Linked DNA regions of Homo sapiens: all the other regions are linked to region 1. The links come from fine-mapping of genetic effects on gene expression. A gene starts in region 1. Each other region holds a variant in brackets. All regions are shown on one strand. Distances are between the middles of the regions. Region 1 holds the start of SPATA13 (spermatogenesis associated 13). Region 2 overlaps SPATA13 (spermatogenesis associated 13). Region 3 overlaps SPATA13 (spermatogenesis associated 13). Region 4 overlaps SPATA13 (spermatogenesis associated 13). Region 5 overlaps SPATA13 (spermatogenesis associated 13). Region 6 overlaps SPATA13 (spermatogenesis associated 13). Region 7 overlaps SPATA13 (spermatogenesis associated 13).

Region 1 (4,066 bases):
CATCCTGCCTTCCTCTAATAGATTTGTAATCTGAACCCAGACATATCTTTTATCCCAGGCGCTCAAAAGGTTTTCACTGAAACCCTGAAAAAAATATTTTTTAAAACTCACAAACAAACAATCAGCAAGCACCTGTATGTGCTAAGTTGATAGATAGTAAGAGTCTTACATGGGCTAAAGTTTTAATTCTCCACCCAATGCAGAGTGAGGTCCCACTGTCACCGGCTCACTGACGAGGAAGCTGAGATTCAGCAAGGTCCAGCACTCGCCCAGGGCTTGTACAGGGCCTCAAGGATGCGGGGGTCTTCAGGTCTAGTTGGTATCACTCCACAGAAATCCATTCATCTGAGGGCCAGGCCTGTTTCCCAAGGACATAGTTTCAAATATAGTGCTTTCTTCACTATAAAAAGTATTGCATGTAAATGTTAATAGTGGTTTCCAAGTAGGCAGAAATAACCTTTTGAAACACAATTTTTTTAAAAGAAAAATCAAAATCTGCTCCTCAGATTTGTGCTAATTCTAAAGAGATAATAAAAAAACCCTCAATTTAGACCGTGATATTTTTTTTTAAATAATACTAACATAGATTTCATTTTAGCATTTGTGAGTGCTTTGTGCAGATTTTTTATAGAGTAGAAATAAAATGGAACAGTCAATGATATTAGCCTCACATACTATGTTTCTAAAATTTTCCAAGGTTTGGTTTTTATATTTTTTCAGCTTTAAAAATACATGGTCATTGTTAAAACTTGGGGTAATTTCAATAACAATTCAAAGAATTAAATAAAATTTGCCCATATTTCCACCACCCACAGATAATTATCATTAATCTTGGAGTGTGCTTTAATTAATAGACTATTTTTAGAGCAGTTTTAGGTTTAGAAAACAGGAATGGAAAGTACACGGAGTTCTGATGTACTCCCTCACGCCCCTCCCTCCACACACAGCTGCTTGTACTGACATCTTACATTCGAGTGGCACATGTGTTATGATTGATGGGCCCATGTTGTTACATTAAGATGAACTAAGTCCATTACTTACAGGAGGCTCACGCCGCATGCTGTTCATTCTGTGAGTTTTGAGAAATGCATAATGACATGAAGCCACCATTATAATGTCATACAGAGTTTTTTCAATATTTTAAAAAACATACATAAAATTAATTTTCACTTTTCATTGGGTAATATAATTTTTGTTTTTTATTTTACAGATTGTGGGTATTGTTCTTTGATTATAAAAGACAATAGACATTTATAAATAATAGTGCTGGCCACTAAATGAATCATCTAAAAAACTACACTGGTAGAAAGCATGCATTTATTTTATGAATTCCATTAGCTGCCTATCAGGGAACATGGAGCACTGGGGCACAGATCCCAGCACAGAAGGGTTTGCTTCTCTTCTGTGGTTTTCATGTCAATTAATGATTAGGCCTTGAGCCTCACAAGAAAGGTGATAGGCCTTTGAGTCGGTTTACTGCAACAGTCTACTCAAGACTTGCCCCAGGCCCTGGGAAACATGTAGGTTTAAAAATCCCTACCCTGCGTTTTCCTTTCACAGGGAGTGAACTTCTGGCCCAGGCAGTGGGCAGTGGGGCACGGTTGCCCCGGAGATGAGACTCCTCTTCCCGCCCTGGGGGGTGGGGGCTGGCTGGTGGCTGAGGGAACTATTTTTGTTTGTTTCTTTTTTTAAAAAACGGAGTCTGGCTGTGTCCTCCAGGTTGGAGTGCAGTGGCGCGATCTCGGCACACTGCAACCTCCGCCTCTCGGGTTCAAGTGATTCTCCTGCCTTAGCCTCCTGAGTAGCTGGGATCACAGGCGCCTGTCACCACGCCCGGTTAATTTTTATTTTTATTAGAGACGGGGTTTCACCATGTTGGCCAAGCTGCTCTCAAATTCCTGACCTCAGGTGATCCGCCCACCTCGGCCTCCAAAAGTGCTAGGATTACAGGCAAGAGCCACTGCGCCTGGCCGGGGAACTGTTTTTGATGGGTGGGGTCCCCGGCTGTGGTTGGTAGTGTGGGGGCGTGGCCGAGGGTGTGGCCTGAGGGAGTGAGCTAACCGGGGGCGTGGCCTGATATGGGGCGGGGGGAAGAGCCGGGCTGGGGGCGTGGCCTGGTGGGGAGCGGGGCTGGGGCGTGGCTTGGCTGAGTGTGCTGCCGCGGCGCGGGAGGAGAGTGTGCGTTGCGCTTTCTCCCGCGATCGCCCTGCCGGTCGCTAGCTCCGAGGGCGCGCACTGGATCCCAGGCTCCTCCGAGAGTGCGGCGACCTCGGGGCTCCGCCGGCACCGGAGGTGGCTCTGAGGGCAGGGACGTGTTGGACACGCTGACTTTGTAGGCTCCGCCAAGAGGCGCCGCAGGAGGTAAGACGGCTTCGGGCGCGCGGCTCTGCCGGGCGGGCGCGGGCATGGGCTGTTAGGTAGAATATCGGGAGGATTTGAGTCCCAGTGGACTGCCTCGGGGCTTCGGGATGTCCAGCTCCCAGCTGCTTGGCCTCTGCTTCCCCCGCCGGTGGAGGCTACCGGGTGCTCACCTGTTAGGTCCGTGCGCCCGCTCCCTGCCCGGCGGTGGCTCTGCGCCCTCTGGGCCACCCGGCACCATCGCTTTTGGGAGGACATGCACGTGGTGTTCTCGCAAAAGGCCGTTTCCAGCCGGAAGCCTGCAGGGAGGTCGCCTTGTAACTTCACCCGCGCTCCCAGCTCGCGGGGCCTGGCCTACAGGGGCGGCCGTGGGGGTGGCAGAGTCTGGGGAGCCTGGCGCGGCGGAGCCCTGTAACGCTCTGCTCCATCGGGTGGCGTGGCTGGTGCCTCCGGGGACCCGGAGCGATGCGGTTGGAGAGCTTAGTTTAGAAAGCAAGTTTCTCTTGGTACCAGCGGAGTCTCGTCCCAGGGGAAAGATTTTGGGACCCGGTGCCCATCGTCTGTGGACTGCAGGGAATGCATTGGCGGAGTTGGTTTGGTCCCATTCTGTGCAGGAGGTGGGGGAATTGGTACTCCAGCCCCAGGCAGGTAGAAGCCCGCGCTGCTGCCAGCGTCAGGGGGAGCTCGGGTGACTTGGGCTGGGCCACCCATCTGACTGCAAGGTTACAGAGCTTGAGCAAATTTCCCCTCCCTCCAAGTGCAGGAAAACCAAACCAAAGCAAGCAAACAAAACCCTGTGGGTCATTTGCTTCCCAGCATTGCATAGGGATGTGGATAAATAGAATAATACTGTGAATTTATTCAGCTCTTGTTCCCATGGCTTCCCATAGCCTTATATTATGCACCTCCCCCTGCCAGCATTTTCTCTGTCCCCACCTTCGGTTTTTGCTGCCTCGTGTTTTCTTCTCTGTGAACCTTTCCTGGTCACCCAGCGATTTGCTCTCCTTTATTCCCCTTGCTAACAGGCGGAGAAATCTCACTCCTTTTCTTTTTCCACCTTTCCCAACAAATTCTCCTTTTTTCCTAATGTCCCCCTCCCCCGTCTTGCAAACTTCCTCACTGCATTATTCTCGGGGTGCCTGTCATGCACCCTCCCTGTTCTCTGCCCTCCTCCCGCACTTTAGAGTTTCATGTGGCTTTGTCTTATTATCCCATATCCTAATTCTCATCTACCTCCCTTGGCCCCCACGTTTGCCATCTGCCTCCACCCAGTTCTCCCATCTCCTTCCTTATTTGTGCTCCCGTGCATATGCAGGTTTCTTCCTTGTTTCCCCATGTTTCTCCCACAGGTGCTTTCTTCCCTTTGCCCTACTTCTCCCTGGCAGGCGCTCTGCCCAGCCACAGCCTGCCCCGCCTGGAGGGCACACCTTGCCTCAGTGCCTTCTGCTGCGGTTTTCCATGCTCCATCAGCATCCCTGGGTTCCTTGTGTTCTTCCAGTCCGCCCTCTGTCACCTTGCAGACGGCTTTCTCTCCGAATGTCTGCAAGTGTCAGAGGCGAGGAGTGGCAGCTGCATCTCTGCAGGAGGACTCTGGATTTCAGGACCCTCCCTTCTGCCACTGCTTCTGACTGATTGTTTTCTTATTGAAGTCGTATCCTCTACATAGTTCTAGAATTAATGTCAATATTGATGTTAGGTAGCATCTACC
Region 2 (4,066 bases), 120 kb after region 1:
GCCGAGGCGGGCGGATCACAAGGTCAGGAGATCGAGACCATCCTGGCTAACATGGTGAAACCACGTCTCTACTAAAAATACAAAAAATTAGCTGGGTGTGGTGGCGGGCGCCTGTAGTCCCAGCTACTCGGGAGGCTGAGGCAGGAGAATGGCGTGAACCTAGGAGGCGGAGCTTGCAGTGACCCGAGATCGCGCCATTGCACTCCAGCCTGGGCAACAGAGCAAGACTCCGTCTCAAAAAAAAAAAAAAAAAAAGAAGAAGTTCACCTTGGAAGTAATATATAGGATGGCTTGGGGAGGGAAACAGAGTCATGAAGACTGGCTGAGGGATTTTTCTAGCTAGAATCTCAGATGAGCACAGGGGTGGGAGTCAGAGAGACCTGGGTTCCTATCCTGGTTCGGACCCAGCCCCTGTATAGCCCTGATAAATGACTCAACTTCTTGGAACCTCAGTTTCCACATCAGCAATTTGCAGTTCAATTGGAAATCACATACTGAGTGCCTTCTGTATGCCAGGTACTATGCTAGGGGCTGGGAAGACAAAAATCAAACGTCTGTCCTTTCCTTTAAGTCTGTCCTGTCCTTTAAGATGGTAAGCGACCTAGACAGTAAGCGTGGGGAATCATAGAAAACCACCAGGCCTGGACGAAGCATCAAAGCATAGCACAAAGATTCTTCCTGTCTAGACATCAGACACTGAGAAATCCCACTCCATAAAACACACTTGAATTATGGGACAGGAACACAGGAGTCATTAACTTTAAGGGACTTTAAAATCGTGAAAGTAGTTAGGGTGGTGAAGGGAAAAGGATACAACCAGAAAATGGAATCAGGTCCTTGACAGGCCCCACTGGGAGCAGGGATTGGTAGTTGGAAGGAAGGGTTAGTGAGGGAACGGAGGGCAGGACATACGGCTGCTCTCCAGAATGGGAGCAAAACACACAGATTTGGATACTAACACTGTTTTTAATATCATTTTGTCTTATTACAAGTAACAGCTACTGCTGGAGGAGACAGTTCTGCCCAGTGGGTAAGAGTTAGATGGCCTGAGCCTGCTGCACACAGCTGTGTGTTATTGGGACTTGAGTTTCCTCATCTGCAAGTGGGGACAACTGACAGTACCTCCCATGTAGCATTGTCATGAGGATTATATGAGCCGGTTCATCTCCACAGCTTAAATCAGTGCCTAGCACATTATAGGCACCTGATAAAATAACATCTTGCAATTCTATTTTTAATTTTTTTTTAATTTATAGAGATGGGTCTTATTATGTTGCCCAGCTTGGTCCCAAACTCCTGGGCTCAAGGGATCCTCCTGCCTCAGTCTTCCAAAGTGCTGGGATTACAAGCATGAGCTACCACGCCCAGCCACATCTTGCAATTCTATACTGTTTTTCAATTTACAGGGTGCTTTCATGTATCATCATTCCACTTGAGGCTCAAAGCACACCAATAACAAGTACTTGTTCAGAATGTATAAACAACCCTGAGAGATGGGTTTTATCATCCACATTCAACAGGTGAAAAAACAAAGAAAGAAACTTGACCAAGGACTCATACTCAAAAAAGAAAAATATAGAAAAGAAAAAAAATGTGCATCGCTATCATTTGAAGGCAAGTTCATCTGACCCCAAAGCCTTGCATGAAGTCCACATGCTGTTTTTCTTTCCTTCCTTCCTTCCTTCCTTCCTTCCTTCCTTCCTTCCTTCCTTCCTTCCCTCTTTCCTTCCTTCCTTCCTTCCCTCCTTCCTTCCTTCCCTCCTTCCCTCCCTCCCTCCCTCCCTCCCTTCCTTCCTTCCTTCCCTGCCTCCCATGTATGCCAGGCAGGAACACAGTTAAGAATAAAGCAGACAAGAATTACTGCCTTTCTGGAGCTTACATTCTGGATAGTGAACAGAATACATTATAGACGGTGACAAATGCTATGGAGAAAACTAAACCAGGGGAGACAGTGGAGTGAGAGTGAGGGTTGTGGTTTTGAGTGGTATGGTGAAGGTGAGAGAGGGAGCCAGTGTGTGTGTACCTGGGGAGGGCTGTCAGGCACACGGAGCAGCGGCCCTGGGCAAGGAGTGCCTGCGGTCTTTGCAGCCAAGAGCCCATTGGTTGGAGAGGGGTGGGAGGCACAGTGTATCTGGGGAGAGGTCTCAAGAACTTTGGCTGTCTCCCCTGTGGATGATTCTGAGCAGAGGAGTGACACAATCCAGTCTAGGAATGGTTTGGCAGCATCGCTCTGGCAGCTATGGCCTGCCGGGGGCAGGGGTGGCAGCAGGGAGACCAGGAGGGGCTGCTGGAGGGAGCC[C/G]GAAGCTGGATGGGAACCCAGGCTTAAGTGGTGGGAGGGGACCCAGGCTTGAGTGGTGGCAGAGGGGTAAGAGGTAGCCAGATCCTGGACACTTTCAGGAACTTGAATCAGATCTGCCAGTGAGTGGGTCGTGGGATGTGAGAGGTGGAAGAATAACCTCTGAATAGATAAAACATACAGGCTAATGCCTGCTTTACAGATGGGAAAACTGAAGCTCAAAGAGCTGAAGTGACTTGCACCAAGGTCATTTAGTTAGGAAGTTAGTGAAGCAAGGACATTCACCCAGGAATTTTCACTCCAGGCTCCATGACTTTCCCTCGTCCATGTTTCAAGTCTCTTGCCCCTGGCCTCTGCCCCCCATCTCCTGGCCAGGACTGAGTCAGCCCACCCATGAGCGCTTCAAGCCATCTTGCTTCCGCAGTGTCGCTAACTACTAATCCATGATGTTGAAACAGTTGCTGTTGAAACCTCTCTTGTGATTAACCTCAGCCAGAGTTGTCTTTTTTCTTTACTTTTTTCTTTTGAGGCAAAGTCTTGCTCTGTTGCCCAGGCTGGAGTCTGGTGGTACAATCAGAGCTCATTGCAGACTGGAAATCCTAGGCTCAAGCCATCCTCCCACCTCAGCCTCCCAAGTAGCTGGGACTACAGGTGCGTACCACGACCCCGGGTAGAGCTGTTTTGCTAAGTGTTTATGAAGAACTCAGAGAGCAGTCAGTATTTCCAGTCCGTGTCTCTGTCCAGAGGTTTTTCTCCTGGTACCTCCTGTAAAGGTCTAACTTTTCAATAGACTCCTGTTAATTGTGAATTTATACATGATTACAACCAGCTTTTTTTCTTTCTTTACTGATTTTCACAGCAATAGCTAGATCATGGTAAAGAATTCTCCCTTGGAAAACACTGTTCAGTTCTTCGAGGAGAAAGCGTCATTTTTCAGAGCTGTGCTGTGGGTGGGAAGCCCCAATGCCTTTATTTTACTGAGATGCACTTTTTTTTTTTTTTTGGCTCAACCACGGTTTAAATTGATAAGGAAAAATGCTATTGGTACCAGACAGTGCCAGATCAGTGGTTGCTAAAATTGGAAGATTCCTGCTGCTTTAGGCATTAGACACCCAGACTTTGTGTATATGCTCCTCACCCAGGAGCATCAGGATATCTCGGCCAGTAAGCAGCACAGTTCTTGGGCCTCGTGGTCTGGGCAGCCGCTCCAGGGTTAGAGAAGGCCTTTGTCTTCAGTGTTGTTTCCCTTGGAGTCTAAAACACACTCATGCATGAAAAAAATGATGTGCTTCCTCAAGACATCCCCCAACCCACCCCCAAACTCACACACCAGCAAAGCATACTAGACTAGGTGACCTCCTGCTCTCCGACTGTACGCACCCTGGCCTAGCATAGGAAGCAGAAGTTACATTTAAAACGAAACAGTCACCATGCGTTGTTCAGGCTCCCGTGTTTCTCAGACAGCACATGTCTGGCTTTCTCAAGGCCTCCAGCCACACCCCCAGCCAGACAGACATGGGTACACACATGCATAGCTGGCTCCCTGCTGCCCACCCACCCGTGCTCCCAGGGTGCACTCCCTTCTCCTGAGGCGCCAGGCCCTGCCATGCCCCTGGCAACCGTCCCCTCTCCTTTAATGAGCAGGTAAGAAAGCTAGGGCCCAGAAGGCAAGACCAAGGCTGTGGAGCGCTTTCTTCTGCCTCTTGGCTTTGTGCTTAGGCCCGGGAATTTACTCCTCCCCCTCCAACCCCGTCTCTTGGTCTCTTAGAC
Region 3 (4,066 bases), 130 kb after region 1:
CACCCTTTACTTCATTATTAATAACATCTGCTTACATAATTTTGAAGTGCATCTCCACAGAAAACAGGAGTCTCTTTTGTTTTATTGTTTGTTTGCTAGATGAATCTTCCATAGAAAGGAGATGTTTCTTCTATCTTATATGCTTATCATATAAACAAAATCTGTATAGTTAATCTTGTCTAAATGTCCCAAATTCATTTTTTCAAAATCCTTTTATGTAGTCTGGAATTAGGGGGTTACATTTGGAGTAATTACTTTTTAAAAATTTCTAAGGGTTATGCCATAAGAACTATGGAGTCCTTCCTAATAATATCCAGGAAGTGTCTATTACATTTCAGGCACTGTTTCCAGGGTTTTCTTATATTAGCTTGTGTATTGCTATGAGGTAGATATGATTATCTCTCACTTTCTAGATGAGGAAACTAAGGCCCAGAGAGTAAGTAACCCAAGACCACATACCAGTAAGAGGCATCTGTGAAGGCAGACCCGGGCATGCGGCTCCAGGACGCATGGTTGTGATACTGTAACTGCCTCAGAACCTTCCTGTGATAACATGCATTTATCATTTTTTAACTTATGATTGACTATTACTACTTAACCGCTAAAGGATTTCAGAGGAAGATTTTAGTCCCAGCCCAAATAGCTAGGGAACAGTAAGAGTAATAATAATAACAATGACAGCCTCACCACACCTTCACTTCCTGGGTGCTGGGCTCAGTAGCTGTCTAGAGTCCTCTGGGGCAGATAGATTTTAAGTGGCTGGGCATAATGTTTTTGTGTTAAGTTAGTCAGCTGGAGGCTGGGCCCCATGTGTGACGTGGGCATATCTGGGACATTGTCACAGGCCTCCTTGTGTGGCCTGTGCAGAAGGTTCCTGCAGGAGCCAGCTTAGGACAGGCTGGAGGCCAGGTGGTGGCATGAGGAAGGTAAGTCTCACAGTGAGGACAGGGGAGTACTGCTGCCACCAGGGAAGGGGTCTTGGCGGGCCCAGCCAGGGTGACGGCAGAGAATTGGGAAGAGAGGTATGTTGAAATGGGCATTTTTGAGGAAAACCTGACAAGACTAGTTGTAAACCACAAAGAATAAGCAACGATTAAAACTGCATACATGGTTTTCAGCGAGTTGAAAAAATTTGTGGGAGGGGGACGTTAGAGGCCCTGCTCCCCACCTTCCAGGATGAGCGTGAGGCAGGCTAGAAAGAGACCAGGGTGCTGAGTTCCAGGGCAGCCTCATCCCCAACCCCCTCAGGAGCCTGCTGAAGCACCCCTTCTCGCCGGCCAGATAACGCTTGCGGAAACCATGGCAGGGCAGCTTGGGTGCCAGCGGATTTCATGCCCTGTCCTTCTTGCAGTAGTCCATCTTCCTCCTTTCTAGGAGTGTCCCTTAGAGAGGGCTGGGATGATGCCTGTCTTTGTCATGTCCCAGAGGCACCCCAGAAGCTGACGAAGCTGTACTTTTCCTTCCCAGCAAGAGGGCTTTGCCATCTATTCCGAGTACTGCAACAACCACCCGGGCGCCTGCCTGGAGCTCGCCAACCTCATGAAGCAGGGCAAGTACAGACATTTCTTTGAAGCCTGCCGCCTGCTGCAGCAGATGATTGACATCGCCATCGACGGGTTCCTGCTCACACCAGTGCAGAAGATCTGCAAATACCCGCTGCAGCTGGCCGAGCTGCTCAAGTATACCACACAGGAACACGGGTGAGGGGCATGGGTAAGGGGCACAGGTGAGAGCACTGCTGCCATTACCCGTAGGCAGCTCTTAACTCCAGGCAGTGATAGGTGGGCTTCAGTGTCAGCCTTAACACTTTGGGAGCTCCATGGGAGAAGTTTTCAGGTTGTTTAGAATGTGTGCAATTAACTATTGAAATAGAGTGGTTGAAGAGCCTCCAGGATATCCAGTCCTAGAGCTATGAAGACACAAGGGCCATTCGTGAGCTGTGCCACGAGTGCATGGCGGCTTTTGTTGTATTGTTATGTTGCTTACCTGTATTTTATAAACATGTCTTTGAGTACTCAGTAGTTAGTAAAGACGGTTTCTGAGGGAAACAGACCAGTGTGAATGGAAAGCCATAACTCTGGTTCTCTCCTGTACCCTTGAGGTTGACGTACAGCAGCTCGGCTCAGAGCAGGATTCTTTATGGCAGAAACATTACTTACTAGTGGCTTACCTAAAGTTACTTGTTGTTAAGCAGTCTCTATTTAGCAACCCCTTCTCTATTTAGAAGGGGTGAGGGCACACACAAGCTTGAACTGTAAAAGGGTGTGGATTGTCAGGGGTGCAAACCCATATGGGGCAGCTGAGAAGACCAGGGCATTGGGCACCTGCTGGGCCCTGAGCCGTTCCCTACCCACCGGGGTGC[C/T]GACTCTCTGGTCTTCTCCCTGTTCCCTCCTGCTGGGAGCACAGGGCTTCCTTCCATGCTTACCTGAATGCTGCATCTCCCTTCGAGCTTCCTTGGTGCCTGACTAAGCTCTTCTTGTTACTCACACTTCTGTTGTTTGGATCTCGGCTTCTCCTGAACAACAAGCAACAAAATACACTCTCTCTCTGTCTTTATTTTTTTATTTTTTTATTTTTTTTTTTGAGACGGAGTCTCGTTCTGTCGCCCAGGCCGGACTGCGGACTGCAGTGGCGCAATCTCGGCTCACTGCAAGCTCCGCTTCCCGGGTTCACGCCATTCTCCTGCCTCAGCCTCCCGAGTAGCTGGGACTACAGGCGCCCGCCACCGCGCCCGGCTAATTTTTTGTATTTTTAGTAGAGACGGGGTTTCACCTTGTTAGCCAGGATGGTCTCGATCTCCTGACCTCATGATCCACCCGCCTCGGCCTCCCAAAGTGCTGGGATTACAGGCGTGAGCCACCGCGCCCGGCCTCTCTCTGTCTTTATTATCTGCCTTGGTTGTTTCTGGATTCTTCTCACGCCCTTGTTCCCTAGCTATATGATCTCTTCTGGGGGAGCCAAAAGTTACCCTTTGTTTCCTTAATAGCCAACCATCATTTCGTGCATGCACAGAAGCCTTTGTGTGGTTATACATTAGGCATGTCACCCATTCAGCATTGGAATGTGCATGCCCATTTTCCATGCCATGGGAAAATGTCATCACAGCACAGCCCAGCTGTTGGGTACCTCAAGGTAGCAGTGCTTGGCTAATTCTGAGTTCTCACCTGGCCAGCAGGGACAGGATAGTCATAGGGCAACTGCTATGTGCCAGGCTCCAAGCCAGGCTACCCAGGGGCGCAGGGGTCTAGGCTAAAGCTGACTCTTTTAGATGAGAATCGAAACAGGGTCCATGCCCCTGACACAAAGTCTTTAACTGCACCTGCAGCTCTGGAGAGGGTCATCTCAAAGGGTCCTAATGAGAAGAGGAAGAGGGAAGGGATTGTACCAGGAGGAAATTTCTATGGCAAACCACAACAGTTCTGGGTTTCAGCAGCTAAATATCTTCCTGCAGGGAGTGGAGAGTGAATCATTATTTTGTCCTCTCTGCCTCTGAACTCCTGTGGAGAGACAGACTTAAAAAAGGAAACTTCTGGCCGGGCGCCATGGCTCACGTCTGTAATCCCACCATTTTGGGAGGCCGAAACGGGTGGATCACATGAGGTCAGGAGTTTGAGACCAGCCTGGCCAAATGGTGAAATCCCATCTCTACTAAAATGCAAAAATTAGCTGGGCATGGTGGCGGGCACCTGTAATCCTAGCTAATTGGGAGGCTGAGGCACGAAAATCGCTTGAACCCAGGAGGCGGAGGTTGCAATGAGCCGAGATCGCACCATTGCACTCCAGCCTGGGTGACAGAGTGAGACTTTGTCTCAAAAAAAAAAAAAAAAAAAAAAAAAAAGGCGAGGGTGTGGGGAGAGCCTTCTTACAATTAGATTGGAAAGTAAAGAATAAGAGCAGATCACTGAACAATAGACACTAGATATGGGTGTTAGCTAAAGAGTTAGGACTAAAGGAATTAGAAAAAGGAGTTCATTGAAATAGATAAAAGAAGAGAGAGCTATATATTTTTTTCTTTTTCTGATGGAGAAATCAGAAAAGTTCAGTGGAAAAAAAAAAACAGGGAAGT
Region 4 (4,066 bases), 63 kb after region 1:
TCCCAAAGTGTTAGGATTACAGGCGTGAGCCACTGCACCCAACCCTGAATTTCTAATATACTTCAGCAGCATCCTCACTTCTCTCTGCTGTATGGCCAGTTGGAAAAAGACCCCCACCAATGTGTTTCCTTCTCAGAGGCTGCCCTGGCATGTCCTTGCTGAGTCCTTCCCGCCTGTGTCTAGGTGGCCCTGTGAGGCTCTCAGTTAGTGTTTGGGCGTCTCAGCCCTCCTGGACAGGAGGCAGCTGCCAGCATGTGGGGCTCCATCTCTGCTCCTCATGCTTATTCCTGCGTGTGCCAGCACTTGGTTTGAGTATTCGGTATGTTGGATTCAACACAGGCTGCCATTTTAATGTCATGCTTTTGAAATCGTTGTGAGGTTTTCTTTTGGTATTTCCTAATTATTTTTTTTTCCATTTCAAATAAGAAGAAAAGATAGTGTTGAATGATACCTAGATATTTTCATTCCAGCGGTTTTTTTCCTAGTCTCACCTACACAGGTTCCAGTGAGCTCAGGAGTTTACCTTCATGTCCGTGGCACAGCCCATAATTACCCTTCTCTGTCCAGGGATGTATATTTGCATCTTTCCTTCAACTTATGAAGTGAATGGAGGGGAAATGTACAGTTTTAATTGAGTTTGAAGTAGCTTTCATCTGACCAGCCCTGTGCTGGAGCGTGCCTCTTCTTCTGTGAGCAGAGGGGCTACTGCGTGGGAAATGGCTAAACCGCCTGCTTTGTCTTTCACTGCAGCCCGTGGCCACCCAGGAGCCCGATGTGCAAGGCAGGTGTGAGTGCCAGGACGGCATTCCTGGAGATGAAGGCCTGGAGCTGCGGTCTGCGGACTCGGCAGTGCCCGTGGCCATGACCCAGGCTGCCGTGCGGCCCTGGGCACCCTGCCTGGAGAACATGACCACTGCCCCAAACGGCCTCGGGCCAGGCCCCGCAGCCCCCTGTGCAGGCTCGGACCTGAAAGACGCCAAGATGGTGACCTCCCTTGCGTGTGGAAATGGAGTCTGTGGCTGCAGCCCTGGTGGCGACACGGACACCCAGGAAGCCAAACTCAGCCCAGCCAAGCTTGTGCGCCTCTTTTCCACCAGTCGGAAGAGGACGGGTGCCCACCCCGAGCGGCCCCACTCCATGGTCCTGGTGGGGAACTCCTCCACATGGAACACCCTCGCCTCCTTCCGGAAAATGGGATCCTTTAAGAAACTGAAGTCCTCAGTCCTGAAAGGAATTCAGAGCCGAGAGGGGTCAAATGCCTGTTCAAAGGGAGAGGCTTCGGAGCATGGCCTGGGAAAGTCCATCCCAAATGGCGCTGTCCCAGGAGCCCAGGCAAGCAGGGGCTCCCCCTTAGCACCGGGACCAGCATGTGGTGCCCTCAGGCCAGCAGAGTGGGGCACATTGGATGGCTCCGACCTCGAGGACACGGACGATGCCTTCCAGCGGAGCACACACCGCTCCCGCAGCCTCCGCAGAGCCTACGGCCTGGGCCGCATCTGCCTGCTGGATGCGCCCCAGAACCATGCGACACCCACGATAGCCACTGGCCAGGTGCCCGCCGTGTGTGAGATTCTCGTGAGGGACCCTGAAAACAACAGCATGGGCTACAGGAGGAGCAAGAGCACGGACAATCTTGCCTTTCTGAAGAAGAGCTCCTTTAAGCGGAAGTCCACCTCCAATCTTGCAGACCTCAGGACGGCCCATGACGCACGGGTACCACAGAGGACCCTGAGCAGTTCCTCCACTGACTCCCAAAAGCTTGGGTCAGGAAGGACCAAACGCTGGAGGAGCCCGATAAGGGCCAAGGACTTTGACAGAGTCTTCAAACTTGTGAGCAATGTGACTGAGGCTGCCTGGAGGAGGGAGAGTCCTAGGAGTGGGGCCCCATCCCCTGGAGAGGCCAGCCTGAGACTTCAGGCACACAGCCGGCTGCATGACGACTACTCCCGCCGCGTCTCCAGGAGCACTGAGCAGGACAGCAGGCGGGGCGGGGCGGTCATGCATGGGACCACTGCAACCTGCACCGTGGCCCCCGGTTTCGGCTCAGCCACCTCTAAGGGGCCCCACCTAGACGCTGACACTGCCGTATTTCCTCTTGAAACCAAAAGTTCCTGGGCGGTGGAAAG[C/T]GACAGTTCCTGCACTTGCAGCTCTTTGCCAAGCCCGATTGTCCAGGATGTGTTGAGCAAAGACTCCTGTGACCCAAACGCTGGCAGCCAGTTGACATTTGACCCTGAGCAGCCTCCCACCCCTCTAAGGCCCACCACACCCAAGCCCCAGAGCCCTCAGAGCCCCCAGAGCCCCGGGGCAGGAAGTGCCAGCTGTCACAGCAATCACAGTGCCCTGTCCGCGAATTCAGAGGAAAGTGAAGGAAGGGCAGAAGAGCCTGCTCAGAGAGAGCCAGGGCCTGTGTCCTTGCAGGATCCCCTGGAAGCCACACATGGTGATGAGGGCAGCAAGGACCTTCTGGTGAACATTGGTGTGGCAGCCGGCCCAGAAGAAAAGGAGAAGGAGGAGGTAAGGGCAGCGGCGAGGTCCCTCATGTGGGCGACCCTCCTGCGGGAAGGGAGCTTGCACAGGTGTTGCCCTTGGTCCCTAACCTGTCAAGGTCAGTGGCCCTCTGCTGACCTTGTTGCCCTTACAGTATTAGTGGGAATGGGAGTTGTCAAGTTGCTGTTTACCAAGTTCAGAAGTAATCTCTATCTCCTTTGAAATAAATTGACAATGTACGAGATTCATTGAGATGACATTTGCCACACCTTTCATTCAAAAGATGTTTATTGAACATGTACCAGGTACTAGATTCTGGGGGAAAAAAATAAGTTGTAAACAAACTGTCTTCTGCTCCATGCAGCTCTGACTCATATCTTTCTTCTTTGTATTTTAAGCTGTTTCTGTAACCTTTCCCACAAAGTACATATAAGTGAAATTCTTTCTGTTAAGAGACTATTACCTGTCCTAATGTCACAGCACCTGTGGGTGTCACTTGACCAGCTGGAAACCTCTGTGGGCTGGCAGTGCCTCTGCTTGAGTTTTGCTCGTGCCCACTAGCCTCGTTCCACCCATTCTGCCCAGCAGGCTGCATTCGGCTTGCACTGCCAGCCCAGATCCCATGCCTGCCAAGGGCAAACCAGGAATGGAGCAGCGAGGGGTGTGTGAGTGAGTGAGCATGGAGTCCAGCCTCTGCACACAGCCAGGCATGTCAGCTGTTGCAGCAGGGCAGGCAGCTCCAGGTGCCGGCACAGGTGCTGGCTCCATGCAAGGCTGTGGCTGGACCAGATGCACTGTAGCTGGCTTCCGCTGCAGGCACCAGCGTGTGGACGAGGGGAACGTGGTGACGAGTGAAAGCTCAGAGATACCAGGAATCACAGAGCCCCAAAGAGGGTGTTACGGCCTGTCACAGCCTGGTTCTCATCTGGGCTCCCAGAAGGGCCACAGCTCTCTTCTTCTCATCACCTGCATTACAGCAAGCAGGGGGGCTTGTTTCTGGGAGTATGTTTCACCCCATTTGTGTTATATCTCCTTCAGTCCCACTGCCCCACTCCAGCATGCAGCTCTTGGGCTGGTCTAGCCCCACCACTGCTTCCTGTTGCATGTTGCAGCTGCCTGGTGCTGGTGGAAATTGGGAGGGTTATAGTGTTACAACTTTAGTTGAGGGAATCCCAAGGTTTGGGCCCCCAGAAGGGTTGCCACTCTTCACGCCTGCAGTCCAGGGGCATGTCACTGTCTGTAGCTCGGTGAGCTGGCCAGGAATTTGTTGCAGCCCCTTTAACTCCCACCTGCAGCTGGGCGAGCCATCCGGGAAAGTGTTACAGCTCCTTTCGCTCCCACCATTGGGCAGGTTCCACATCCAGGAAAAATGAAGTTACGTGGACAAACGGAGGGTGAGCAAGGCTGAGAAGAGCTTTATTGGGTGACTGAACAACTCTCAGCCCATAGGAGACCTGGAATGTGTTGCTCCTCTCTGCAGGCAGGTAGTCCCAATGAGTGGCGGAGTCTGGGGGTTTTTATAGGCTCAGAATGGAGGAAGTGCATGCTGATTGGTCCATGGGCAGGCCTGGAAAAAGCA
Region 5 (4,066 bases), 55 kb after region 1:
GCAGTGGCATAATCTTGGCTCACTGTAACCTCCACCTCCTGGGTTCAAGCAATTCTTTTGCCTCAGCCTCACGAGTAGCTGGGACTACAGGTGTGGGCCACCATGCCCGGCTAATTTTTATATTTTTAGTAGAGACAGGGTTTCGCCATATTGGCCAGGCTGCTCTCAAACTCCCGACCTCATGATCCATCTGCCTCGGCCTCCCAAAGTGCTGGGATTAGAGATGTGAGCCACCATGCCCGGCCAGGGTCTTTCTTATCCTAGAAAGAGGACAACACCCTTCTCCCTGTCCTTTTTCTCATTCTGCTACCATTCAAGCTTCTAAGTCAAAGATCCAGTTCATCTTTTCATAGAAGTATGACTTCATTTATTTTAGTATATTACTAATGAACAACTTTAATATAGCGATCCTATTAATATTTTTAACATAATTTGTTTACATTATAAATTAAGTGGGAAGGGGAAGATGATACGAGAATCTTATAGGAAAAAATGTGTCTTCAAGTCTGAACAAGTGACTTAAAAATTGATATTTAGAATACTACTTGTTCAACAGTTTACAGAACATTTTACCTTCTGGTATTTATTATCTGAGTCAGGGTTGAAGGAATCTGAAGGCATGTATGATCCATACTCATGGAGAAAAGATACAGCTAATTTTGAAATGAAATAATGGCATTTTATATATGTTTGGTTTCAGAGGCATCCTTTGGGAAAAGCGATCACCTTCTCCAGATCCGCATTCAGGTGATCTTTGCCAATCTCTGACTGAGCCTGGTGGCACATCACTTCTATCTGGCCTTGACCTTTGAGGCAGCAGGATGACTGCAGGGAGTAGGCAGTGCTTCCATCTGTGAATCACAAAGCAGATCAACCCCAAAGCAGCCACCTGCACATGTGGTACATCTTCTGCACCTCCATAGACACTTTTACCTAAGGCCAGATGCATGTACAATAAACTTAAATCCATTGACTTTTCAACAGATTGCTTCACGTCTTTGGATCTGGAAATTTTGACCCAGAATACCATTCCCTATTAGCAATGACCTATAACTATCAACTTTACATGTTACCAAGAAAGGTGTCACGCCATGAGAATAATTAATATTTTGATGAGAATTTTCTCTTTACAATGCATGTGCTTCTCTAAAAGTAAAAGAAACTGCTCTAAAAGAAATTTTAGGATCCCATGGAGAAAGCTGGGTTCAGGGATGTTGTGTGACTAGCACAGGTCACATAACAAAGCAATTCAAAGCAAAGAACCCTGACCCCAAATTCTTAGCCTCAGCTGCTGCCCTTCCTCCCCTTCACCTGTCCCTCAGTCTTGCTGAGAGGGATGCTCCCTGGTGTTGTCCAGTCATCACTGGGTTCCCTGCATCTGTGTTGTCAGCAGCACATCTGTTTCCCTCCTTAGTTGCATGGGGACTCTCACTTCCCATTTGCTTCTGCCTTGTAAAGGGTAACATAACCTTGTCTCATCTTGCATCTCCGCTTTCCTTTTTGAGATTCAACATATTTAAGTATTAGTGATTCTTTAGTTTTCCTAGCAACTAAACTCAGCTGGTTTTGAACTTCTCGCAAAAGTCAGAATATAGTACTTGCTTTCATTTCAGTCCCCACTGAGCATCTGACATATTTAAAACATTATTAAGCTGTGTCAAAGGAGCCATGTCCCTGGGATATTATACCAGAGTATTCCTGAATTCTGTGTGTTGGTTATGTTCGAGCACAGCGTCTCCCTGAGGACGCGCTGGCAATGAGAACCTCCACCTCTAACAAAGTCTCACAGATCGCCTCTGAGAGATGGGGTGTGTGCTCCAGGGACCCCTGTTCAGGAGGAGTAGCTGGTCACCTCTGGCTTGGTTCATTGGTGGCATCATGTCACATGACTGTCGTGCATGTCCTAAATGAGGAGATGTGTGCCAAGAGGCAGGGAGGGCTTGCAAGAAAACAATATGCAAATCTCAGTTCAATTAGAAGACAGTTTAAATTAGAAGCAGAAGGCATTTCAGCAACTGCTTTAATGTGTAAAACTAATTTGAGAGGATGAGACACTTGATTGCACAGCACAGGGAAAGGGCCTCTTCTGGGCCTCTGTCCTCAACAGTGGCAAAATGGTCTGTGGGGACATCCCCTACCTTAAGACCTGATAGGCTGCTGGGTGGAAGCTGAGTTGAAAATTAATCTCATTTCCTCAGAATGCAAAGCTATAAATTGGGGCTCTGCCTGGAAACACATTTTATGCAAAGACAAAAAAATTGAACACTAAAATAAATGCAGCAAAAATAAAATGCAACACACATATATGCTCTTACACACAGTTATTAAGTATGTCTAATTAAGCTGTGGATGTAAAAGCTACATCATTCCCTTTAGGGGTATTCTGTGCTGACTGCACTGTTGGGTG[A/T]CTTAGCCTGTGAACTCAGTGAACACAGCTCCAGATTTGGGCCAGTCTGCCTCTGCCAAGCAGAGACATTGTTTTTGCTCCAGTGACCATCACAGTGCCTTCAGGATTAGGGCCATCCATCTGGAAAATTTTCATTGCCCTGAATGGTAAATGTGGGGGAGGTGCAGTCTTGTGGTGACATCAGTTTTGGCATGGGTTGCAGGCATGAGGTAGTCCTAACCGGGAACTTCATTGTTACTGCTGCAATCTTGTTTACCACCAGAAAGGTGGTGGACAGGCCATGGCTGTAGGAAGTCAAGACGCAGGGCAGTCTTCAGGGCTGAGGGCTGTGACTGGCAACAGCTCCCCTGGAGCCTTCCAAGGTTGCTGTGAGATTGGAGGAAGAGGAGCTCAGAGGCTGTCACTGTGCAGAGGTTGGGGACGCAGGCAGGGAGGGGCATTATGGAGGATGCCAGCATCTTTCGCACAAGCTCAGACCTACCTGCCCTTTCATCTCTCACTACACCAGCCTGACCTGCAACTTTAGACACAGAAGGAAGATTTTCCTTTGTGGTCTAAGACCTGCCTTTGCAAATCCTTGTTTTCTGCACCCCATCACCCCAGAGGATTGACAAAGCAAATATGAATCCCTATTGGGGAAACACCATTCTCACCCACAGGAATGTGTTTTAGCCCAGTAACCCCCATAAGGCAAGCCAAGACAATCACACGCTTGTATGAAATTGACACCTTTCCAAAAGATACGCTTATTCTAGTTGCATTTGTCCATATACTTTCAATTCACAAACATTGAACTTCAGTGATTGAATACTTAAGTGACGCCAGAGCTACAGATGCTCTTTTGAAGCATCTTACCTACTCCTTACACAGAGAGACCCTGAAGGTACCAGATCAAAGGGTAAGGGGGCTTCTTTCTTTTACTAAGGTATGTATATTGGGGCTAGGAAGAGGAAGGACGGTGTCTGGCATTAGGCCTGGGGAATAACTTCATCTCTGAAATTAGGACCTTGGATGCTTTCTCTTTATGAATGTTGTAAATTATGGCTGGGCATGGTGGCTCATGCCTGTAATCCCAATACTTTGGGAGGCCAAGGTGGGAGGACGATTTGAGGTCAGGAGTTTGAGACCAACCTGGCCAACATAGTGAAACCCTGTCTCTACTAAAAATACAAAAATTAGTGGGGCATAGTGGCATGTGCCTGCAATCTCAGATACTTGGGAGGCTGAGGTGGGAGGATCACTTGAGTGTGGGAGGCGAGGTTGCAGTGTGCTGAAATTGTGCCACTGTGTACTCCAGCCTGGATGACAGAGCAAGACTCTGTCTCAAAACAAAACAAACAAACAAAAACAAAAACAAAAAAAAGGAAATGATAAATTTCAGTGGTTTTAACTGGCCATGGTATGTACCTGTTATCCCAGCTACTTGGAGGATGAGGTGAGAGGATCACTTGAGTCTAAGAATTTGAGGCCACCCCGGGCAACATAGCAAGATTGAGTCTCTTAAAACTTTTTTCCAGTAATTTCAGAAAAACTATTCTGAAACTAATTGGTAGCACATTCATGGTTTTCAGCACTCTCTCTCTTTTTATTACAATTCTTCTTCCTAATAGCATCAGTGGCCACAGTTGCTGCTAGACATCCTACAAAGCACAGGTCTGC
Region 6 (4,066 bases), 26 kb after region 1:
TTGTTGTTATCCATTAACTTAATGCTGGGCAACAGCATGAACTCACTAATCACAGTGAGGAGTTTTGTTTTCTGTGCAGGACAAAGTTCAACGCTCTGCTAATTTCATGATCTCAGTTGTGAAGGTCCAAGTGACTGGACCTAATATAAAATCGTGTCCACCATGGTATGACCTCTCTGGTGACATTATGAAGACTTGAAAAGGCAGGATGGGTCCAGATTTTTTTTTTAATAAAATACTTCTTTAGTTATTTTGATGAAAGGCAGTGTAAAAGGAAAATCCATTGTTTTCCTGTTGTTCTGAGTTGAGTCAAGCGACGGAGTCTACGGAAAATGACCACTTCTTTACTCTTCCAGAGTCCTAGCAGCCGTATGGGTCATTCCTCAGGAAAGTGCGGGTGCCTTTGAAAGTGGGCACTGGGGCCGTCTTTGAAAGGCACGTGTATCGAGCATTGTGTTTTGCTTCTCCAGGGGACCTGCTCTGTCACTGCATTTGTTGCCAGTTCGGGCATTTCCCCCGCTTTCTGTAGCTCCTTGTGTGCCACCTTTCCTAATCATAAGCCCTGAAGTTCCCCTGTGACGTATTTTTGTGCTGCTGAGTAGATGCTAGTTTGTTACAAAAGACCATACAATAAATGCTTTTGTGTGTAATAGTGCCCATCACACATGATAGGCACTCAGTGAAGTTTTACTGCTTGCTTTATAAAGAAATTTTTTCCACAAGGGATTTTATTTCTTAGTGAAGTACTGCCATGAGGATGATTTTTAGGGCCCTATAATTTAGATTTTCCTGATTCAAGACTGTAATTTATTCTTAAGCTATCTGGAGATCCACTTAATGAGAAATAAACCTTTTAAGAGGGCTGAAAGAACCAAGATTTTAAATGGCCAAATTAAGGCTTTTATATCACCTCTGGAAATAACTACTCGTTTAATTTTAAATCCATTAATAGCCTTCTGTAATTTTGACATAATGACTATTGATAAGTCCTTTATATGGTCTCATTTCAGAAATCTTAAGGAAATAATTGGTGTTAACGTAATAGGCATCGTGTTTTAAACATCATATGAAACATCATAATTGAAGGTTTCTCAATTCCTGGATTTAACTTAGAACACATACAAATAGATGCAGTTTTTTTTTTTCATGAGCCCTGTGTTAGTCAGGGTTCTCCAGAGAAAGAACTAAAAGAATGTGTGTGTGTGCGCACACACATACATCAAGAGACAGAGAGAGAGAGAGAGATTAAGGAATTGGCTCATGTGATTGTGAAGCCTGGCAAGTTCAAAATAAGCAGGGTAGGTCAGTAGGCTGGAGTGTCTGGCAGGCGTTGATGTTTTAGGCTTGAATCTTATGGCAATCTTAAGGCCAAATTTCTTTCTTTTCTGGAGACTTCAGTCTTTTAAGGCCTTCAACTGATTAGAGGAGGCCCATCCACATCATCTGCCTCACTCAAAATCTACTGATTTAACTGTCAATCACATCTAGAAAAGATCTTCACAGCAACATCCAGACTGGTGTTTGGCCAAATAACTGGGCATCACAGTCCTAGCCACGCTGACACATAAGATGAACCATCACAACTACCAGTGAGGAAACGGGAATGTTACGGTTCACAGGGGAACCTAAAGAAGAAGTCCTCTTTGCTTCACCTGCTTACATGATGTAGGGTTAATTGCAAAGCAAAAGTAGAAAATTAGAAGGTTTGGGAATAGCTACAGGAAAATTGGATGCTACACCAGCAATTAGGGATTAATAGTATGACTAAGGTCAGAGGTTTACGATATGTCAGGGATACACAAACTCACGTGTTGTATGTTTGCTGGCGACTGATAATAGTCTTCAAACCAAGAGGGAACATCAGCCATAGTCCAGAAAAACTGATGACAGAGTTTCCTAAATCCCAGAAACGAATAAAAATAGGACATCAACAATGTTCTACGAGTCAAGATTAAAGCTGAAATTATTTTAGGTTGTCCCCAGGGTCTAAGTAATGCCACTGTGCTAGGCCCAAGAGCTAAAGAGAAGTTAGTTCCCTTTCAGAGTTTCTTAACCTTCAGTGTCAGGAGGCCAAAGCAAAGCATAACATTGTTACGGGAACATTAATTTTCTGCACAGAAAATACAGGTTTGAGAGGGAAGTGCTCCACAGGGCAACTTGTTTGAAATGGGCAACAACGCTATTGAGGCGGTTGATCAAGTTGAAGAGAAAAGGGAAGGAAGAGCTGGAAATAGGAT[T/C]GGAAATCCTAGTGTGTTTGGCTTTTGCATATTCTCATGAAATTCCAATTGGTGAATTTATTAAGAAGTTGATTTCATTTCTGTAAAGTCACACTTAACATGCTGTTTAGTTAAAAAGAGCCTCATTATGGGTCAGATGTGTAGGTGTTGATTTATGCAAACTGAGAAGAACCAACAAAGAGACTTCTCTTAATCCTTTTCCTTGAGGAGGATGTTCCAGCAAACACCAGGTTGCATGTTATGACAGCCTAGCACAAAACTACCTTTTTCAAAGCAATGTCGTCTGTTTTCAGATGCTCTACTCTCACTGCTTGTATAATTCTAGGAATTTCAGAACCCATGAATTTTGGCTACCAAAATTCTTTAGCTATCCAAAGAAAGGAGAAAGAAATAGTCACAGCAAGATCTGCTTTTCTGTTGCAGTCATCCCTGCCTCAGAGTGACACATGAGTCATGACTGGAGGTAGATGAAGAAACTACGCTTCTGGTTGTCTGGCCTCTTTTCTGAGTAGTCCTAGCTATCTTCAGTTCTCAGTGGCTTTGTTAACACACAATCATTGCCCTCTTTCTCTCCACCCTTCTATTTATAGAAGTTTGACAGGGATGTGGAAAACAGCGACCGGCTTACGTTTTATTCTGCCTAGCTTTATTGCATTTTGCGGAAATTGCACCTTTTACAAACTGAGGGTTTGTGGCAACCCTGTGTGGAGCAAGTCTATTGGCGCCATTCATTGTTACAATAGCATGTGCGTACATCTTGTCTGTTACTTTTTGATAATTCTCAAAACATTTCAAGCATTTAAATTATTATATCTGTTATGGTAATCTATGATCAGAGATCTTTGATGTTACTATTGTAATTGTTTTGGGCTTCATGAACTACACCTATATAAGATGGTAAACTTGATCAATAAATGTTGTATATGTTTTGACTGCTTCACTGCTGGCCACTCCCAGTCTCTCTGCCTCTTCTCAGGCCTTCTTATTTCCTGAGACAGAACAATATTGAAAGTAGGCCAATTAATAACTCTACAATAACCTCTAAGTGTTCAAGTGAAAGGAAGAGTCGCCCATCTCTATTTTAAATCCAAAGCTAGGAATGATTAAGCTTAGTGAGGAAGGCATGTTGAAAGCCAAGATAGGCTCAAAGCTTGGCCTCTTGTGCCACATGGTTAGCTAAGTCATGAATGCAAAGGAAAAGTTCTTGAAGGAAATTAAAAGTGATACTCCAGGCCAGGCGTGGTGGCTCATGCCTGTAACCCTAGCTCTTTGGGAGGCCAAGGCGGGCAGATTGCCTGAGCTCAGGAGTTCGAGACCAGCCTGGGCAACATGGTGAAACCCCATCTCTACTGAAATACAAAAAATTAGCTGGGCGTGGCAACATGCACCTGTAGTCCCAGCTACTCGGGAGGCTGAGGCAGGAGAATCAGTTGAACCTGGGAGGCAGTGAGTCGAGATCATGTCACTGCACTCCAGCCTGGGCAACAGAGCGAGACTCCATCTCCAAAAAAAATAATAAAAAAAAAAAGTGATACTCCAGTGAACACACAAATATTAAGAAAGTGAAACAGCCTTATCGCTGATATTGAGAAAGTTTTAGTGGTCCAGATAGAGATCAAACTGGCCATAATATTTCCTTAAGCCAAAGGCTAATCCAAAGTCTAATCCAAAGCAAGTCTCTAACTCTCTTTAATTCTGTGAAGACTGAGAGAGGTGAAGAAAGGTTTGAAGCTAGTAGATGCGGGTTCTTGAGGTTTAAGGAAAGAAGCCATCTCTGTAACATAAGTGCAGGGTGAAGCAGCAAGTGCTGATGTAGAAGCTGAAGCAAG
Region 7 (4,066 bases), 150 kb after region 1:
GTTTAAGGAAGTAAAGAGAATCATTTGCTTGTGTTACATTTTCAGTGAGGATTCAGTTTAAGAGTCATTCTTAGGACTTCCATTTCCTAATATTTATTCATGGGTAATGAAGAAATGGTTTGCATTTTGTGGCCAGTCCTAATTTATTTTCCAGCTGAGCCCTAACTTCCGGCTCCCACCTACCTCCACGGACTTCCTAACAGAGACTTATGAATACCAGGATGTGTTTTTGTTAAGTCAGGTTCAATTCGTTGCCCCTGTCAGTTTTATAGAGTGTGAGGGTCACTCCATTAAAGATCTCTCCTGGGTGGATCCTACTTGGATGTTCAGGTGATTTTGAAAACTGCTAACATTTTTAAAAGGCTAGAACATCCTTTGACTTCTTGAAAATCTGCATGTCTGGCTTGGGTTTTATTACCACATGCCTGAGTTCTTCAAGAATGGAAGGCTCAAGTATTCTCATCTTCCATTTGCCAAACTTCCTTCCTGATTTGAGTCACGTGTTCCACTTGGAAAGAAAGGGAACAGAGAGCCTCCTCCATGGACAGTGTATGAATTTCATTGGGAATCTTGCTCTCTCCCGCCTCTATGCCTTTCTCTCTTTTTAACCTTACTTTACATAATATTATAGATGGGCCAAGAAAAGAAAAGATGACATAACATTTTGATGAATTTCACCTATTCCATTCTTCACGTTTCAGAATTGGTCGACTTTGTTAGAAGATAATTGAAGTAGCCTTGGGTCAAAAGCAACCTTTTCAATTGTGATCATACCTAAAACATATAAAAACCCTGCCGTAGATTAAAAGCAATTATAAAATCATAAAATTGAATGTTTGCAGAATCCTGGAGCAGTAGATTTCTTTGTCTTTGGCCTGCGGACTAGAAAGAGGGCAGCAGTAGTATGCTGGAGCTTCCCTGGGATACCAGCCACATGGTTTCTTTTCATTAGATCTGATTTTTGTTTCCCACTGTAGATCTGATTTTGTAGTTGAAAACATTTCACCACCATCAAACACTATTTCTGAATATTGTGCCTTTTTATACCTAGCCTAGATGAAAACCGATGCCATTCTTATTCAGAAAATCCCCCCATCCTACATGACTGTTATCTAGACATAAAGCAAAGTGCATTTAATTCAAAATTTGGTTCACAATATAAGTATTTTGTAAAAGCCAGCTGAACCAGCATTTTATCAGGTGGAAATCTCTGCAAGCCAAATTGCTGATACTCCTTCATGCAGATCAACTTGGTGTCCCAGTCAGAATAGAACAGCATAATTACCTGGAGTTAGGGGGAGTATTTCTGCACTATTACTTGTCAGGGAGAGAAGAAACTTAGAATTGTCCCTCAAAGGAGTGTCAAGAAGTATGAATAAATGTCCTTTCACCAGCTCACAGGCCAGAAATGGAGGACCCAAGTCAACTAGGTGAAACTACTAGCAGACCCAGCTTTCCCATAATAACCTAATCTGCAAATTGTTCTATTAAAGTCTCATTGTTTTCAGGATGCAATGAAAGTGGATTTCAAAAGGCTTTGGAAAAATAAGTGGAACATGACTGATCTTGAAAAAAAAAGCAAAAGCTTAAATATTTGATACAAGTTTACTTAGCTACAACATACTTTACATTGTTGCCTTTAGTTATCTCACAGGCACTGACATTTTATATTTAGAAAATACTTTTAATCTTTCTAATCTTTTTTTGTAAATATTAGTGTCCATTCTGTATGACTCGCTAACCTACTTTGCAAGGCTTTGGGCAACATTTTAGCTCATTAACTTCAAGATGATGTGTCATCTGTATAGGTCAAAGAATGGGACTTCTGAACTGAGGAATTTGCTGTTGACAGCCAAAGTATAGTGTACAAGATTGATGTAACTTGATATGTATTTTTGTTGAAGTTTTTTGTAAAAAAAAATTATTTACAATGTTATTTGAATGATTTTTTTAAATGCTGTGAATCTATATTTGTTGTTTT[G/A]TATATTAAAATTCATTTGCCAAACTCGTTCTGATGATGCATTTGAGTAGCAGCCTTTAAAAGGAGGAAGTGGAGAGCTGGGTGCGGGGGCTTCTGGGATTTGTAGCTCCTCTGCTGCCCTGATGTCCCTAGACTTCTCAGTGGCAACAACTCATCCATTCAGGAGCTCCATGTAACCACTGGGTAGGCGTGGGAGAAGGGGGGCTCCGAGGGCAACCTCGGAGGGCACCCTGGCTTGAGAAACGTCAGTGGTTGGAGTAAGAGGGATGCGGAAGGGAGCAGTGGGGCGGGGCCGCTTTTGCTAGGGATCATGGAGAGGAGACAGAACAACAGACTGTGCCCTCTGACTGCCCCTGAAGGCTAGGCCCTGCCACAGGAGCTGTGCTAGTGGCCCTGCTCACTCGCCCTTTGCGGGTGGGTAGATTAGAATTTCCTTCTCCAACAGCTCAGAAGAGCTAAGTCAACAGCCCATTGTTTGCTGTGGCTGTAATCAGAAAAGGATTCCTATGAAGGCTGCCAAGTGGCTACTGCCCACTTTTTGTTTACTCTTAATATCCACCTGCTTCCCAAAGTGATCTGCTCCTCCCAACCTTGGGCTGCACTGGGGAAGGGCGGTCGCTAGGGTGGGGAGGGGGCGAGCCCCAGAACCCATAGGGCAGAGCATAGTGGCTCCATGTATAGGACACAGTGAAAGAGATGGGGGTGGCATTTTCTTCCAGGAGAGTTGTGGGGAGATGACCGTTAGGTCATAAGCGCGCCCCTACTCTGCACTGGCGAGACCAGCAAAGCTGGAGTGAACCCAGCTGAACCTGGGCCGCAGCAGCCCCGGAGGCTGGAGGCGCTGCAGTCGGGAAACACCAGGAGGATGGAGCCCTTTTCCCTGTAAGCAGGAGGCCAGGATCCTGATTCCTGAGCCGGCTTCCCACGGACCCCAGGCCCCGGCAGGGTCCTGGCGGGAGGAAGAACCCACGGAGTGAGTGGGGTGTCAGCAAAGCGGGGCCGCAGGGCAGGTTCTGGAAGCCTCTCCGCGTGGCTGGGCTGGAGTGTGCAGACGTGGGAGAGCCCGGAATGGGGAGCGCGTGGCCGGTGGAGGCCCGAGGCTGTGCTTCCGTCGCTGGCTCTGAGGCAGAGGTCCAGGCCGGCAGGCTGCCCAGGTGGTCCTGTCTCAGAGCTCTCCGGGGCGCAGAGGCGCGGGAAGCGGGGAAGGGCCGGGCAGCGAGACGGGTGTCCCCAGCAGGAGGTCGGGGACCCGTCGCGCGTTCCGTCGGGGCCGCCTGCGGTGCAGGGGTCAGAGACCAGCCACGCGAGCAAGAGGGAGCCCGGCCAGAACTGCTGAGAGCCCCCAGCGGAGCTGGGACTCAGGGGCTCCTTGCGTTTAGCCACCAAGAGTGGGGGCAGGCTGCGGGGTGCCGGGGAGAAGCCAGATCTCACTCATTTTACACCGACTAATTAGATCCCGCCGCCCACCTGGGACCACGGCATTGTCATGTCCGCTGCACTGACGGGGAAATTGAGGCACGGGGGCGAGTAAGGCGGGAGAGGGAGTCGGCGCCGCCGAGCTGGGGCGAGCCCCGCACCCACCCGTACACTCGGCCTCTGCCCCTGCTCTGTGCGTGGGCTCCTGCTCTGTGCGTGGCCTCGCCGCCGAGCTGGGGTGAGCCCCGCACCCACCCGTACACCCGGCCTCTGCTCCTGCTCTTTGCGTGGCCTCCTGCTCTGTGCGTGGCCTCTGCTCCTGCTGCGTGCACTGCGGCATCTCGGGAAACCGGGCTGGGCTCCTCTGTCCTCTGGAAGCTACTGTAAGTTTTAGATAAATGTTACTACTAGACACGAGGAAAGTGAGTCCATGATTACTGGCATTGAACAAATGGTTGCACCGCGTTCTCCGTGGTAGGTGGAGTGTGTGATTGTGAGAGGGGAATGGACACTGAATCCTTACCTACACAAATGCCTAAACTCGTAAGGCATTACGACACACCCATCTGAAAATCTAATTAAGCGGTAGGAATTCTAATGGTCCGGGATCCAAATGAGACCCAGCCACTTAACAGTTAGCAGCCTTCAGTTTTGTCCTGTTGCCCGTAA

The links.
Region 2: its variant is fine-mapped to the expression of SPATA13 in whole blood (INTERVAL, PIP above 0.99).
Region 3: its variant is fine-mapped to the expression of SPATA13 in whole blood (TOPMed, PIP above 0.99).
Region 4: its variant is fine-mapped to the expression of SPATA13 in whole blood (TOPMed, PIP above 0.99).
Region 5: its variant is fine-mapped to the expression of SPATA13 in cerebellar hemisphere (GTEx, PIP above 0.99).
Region 6: its variant is fine-mapped to the expression of SPATA13 in whole blood (TOPMed, PIP above 0.99).
Region 7: its variant is fine-mapped to the expression of SPATA13 in whole blood (TOPMed, PIP above 0.99).

The regions. Positions count from the first base shown.
Region 1 is chr13:24,158,572-24,162,637 of GRCh38, forward strand. SPATA13 (spermatogenesis associated 13) reads left to right here and starts at 2,149. Exons shown (of 13, transcript NM_001166271.3): 1 at 2,149-2,361. It overlaps MIR2276 (microRNA 2276), which reads left to right and starts at 3,845; the gene lies at 3,845-3,933. RefSeq lists a silencer at 2,040-2,099.
Region 2 is chr13:24,277,208-24,281,273 of GRCh38, forward strand. All of the region lies in intron 4 of SPATA13 (spermatogenesis associated 13), which reads left to right. Among named protein-coding and RNA genes, the nearest start is that of SPATA13-AS1, 25 kb to the left of the region's middle. RefSeq lists a silencer at 3,773-3,852. The variant C/G (reference allele first, on the strand shown) is at 2,300.
Region 3 is chr13:24,289,185-24,293,250 of GRCh38, forward strand. SPATA13 (spermatogenesis associated 13) reads left to right here. Exons shown (of 13, transcript NM_001166271.3): 9 at 1,468-1,700. Among named protein-coding and RNA genes, the nearest start is that of C1QTNF9, 18 kb to the right of the region's middle. The variant C/T (reference allele first, on the strand shown) is at 2,363.
Region 4 is chr13:24,222,069-24,226,134 of GRCh38, forward strand. SPATA13 (spermatogenesis associated 13) reads left to right here. Exons shown (of 13, transcript NM_001166271.3): 2 at 751-2,514. The coding sequence starts at 862. Among named protein-coding and RNA genes, the nearest start is that of SPATA13-AS1, 30 kb to the right of the region's middle. RefSeq lists enhancers at 1,191-2,047, 1,752-1,861, 2,062-2,131, 2,906-3,762. The variant C/T (reference allele first, on the strand shown) is at 2,127.
Region 5 is chr13:24,213,320-24,217,385 of GRCh38, forward strand. All of the region lies in intron 1 of SPATA13 (spermatogenesis associated 13), which reads left to right. Among named protein-coding and RNA genes, the nearest start is that of SPATA13-AS1, 39 kb to the right of the region's middle. The variant A/T (reference allele first, on the strand shown) is at 2,408.
Region 6 is chr13:24,184,591-24,188,656 of GRCh38, forward strand. The region is part of intron 1 of SPATA13 (spermatogenesis associated 13); the gene reads left to right. Among named protein-coding and RNA genes, the nearest start is that of MIR2276, 24 kb to the left of the region's middle. The variant T/C (reference allele first, on the strand shown) is at 2,238.
Region 7 is chr13:24,305,065-24,309,130 of GRCh38, forward strand. It overlaps SPATA13 (spermatogenesis associated 13), which reads left to right. Exons shown (of 13, transcript NM_001166271.3): 13 at 1-2,005. It also overlaps a transcript of C1QTNF9 not described here. Among named protein-coding and RNA genes, the nearest start is that of C1QTNF9, 2.5 kb to the right of the region's middle. The variant G/A (reference allele first, on the strand shown) is at 1,982.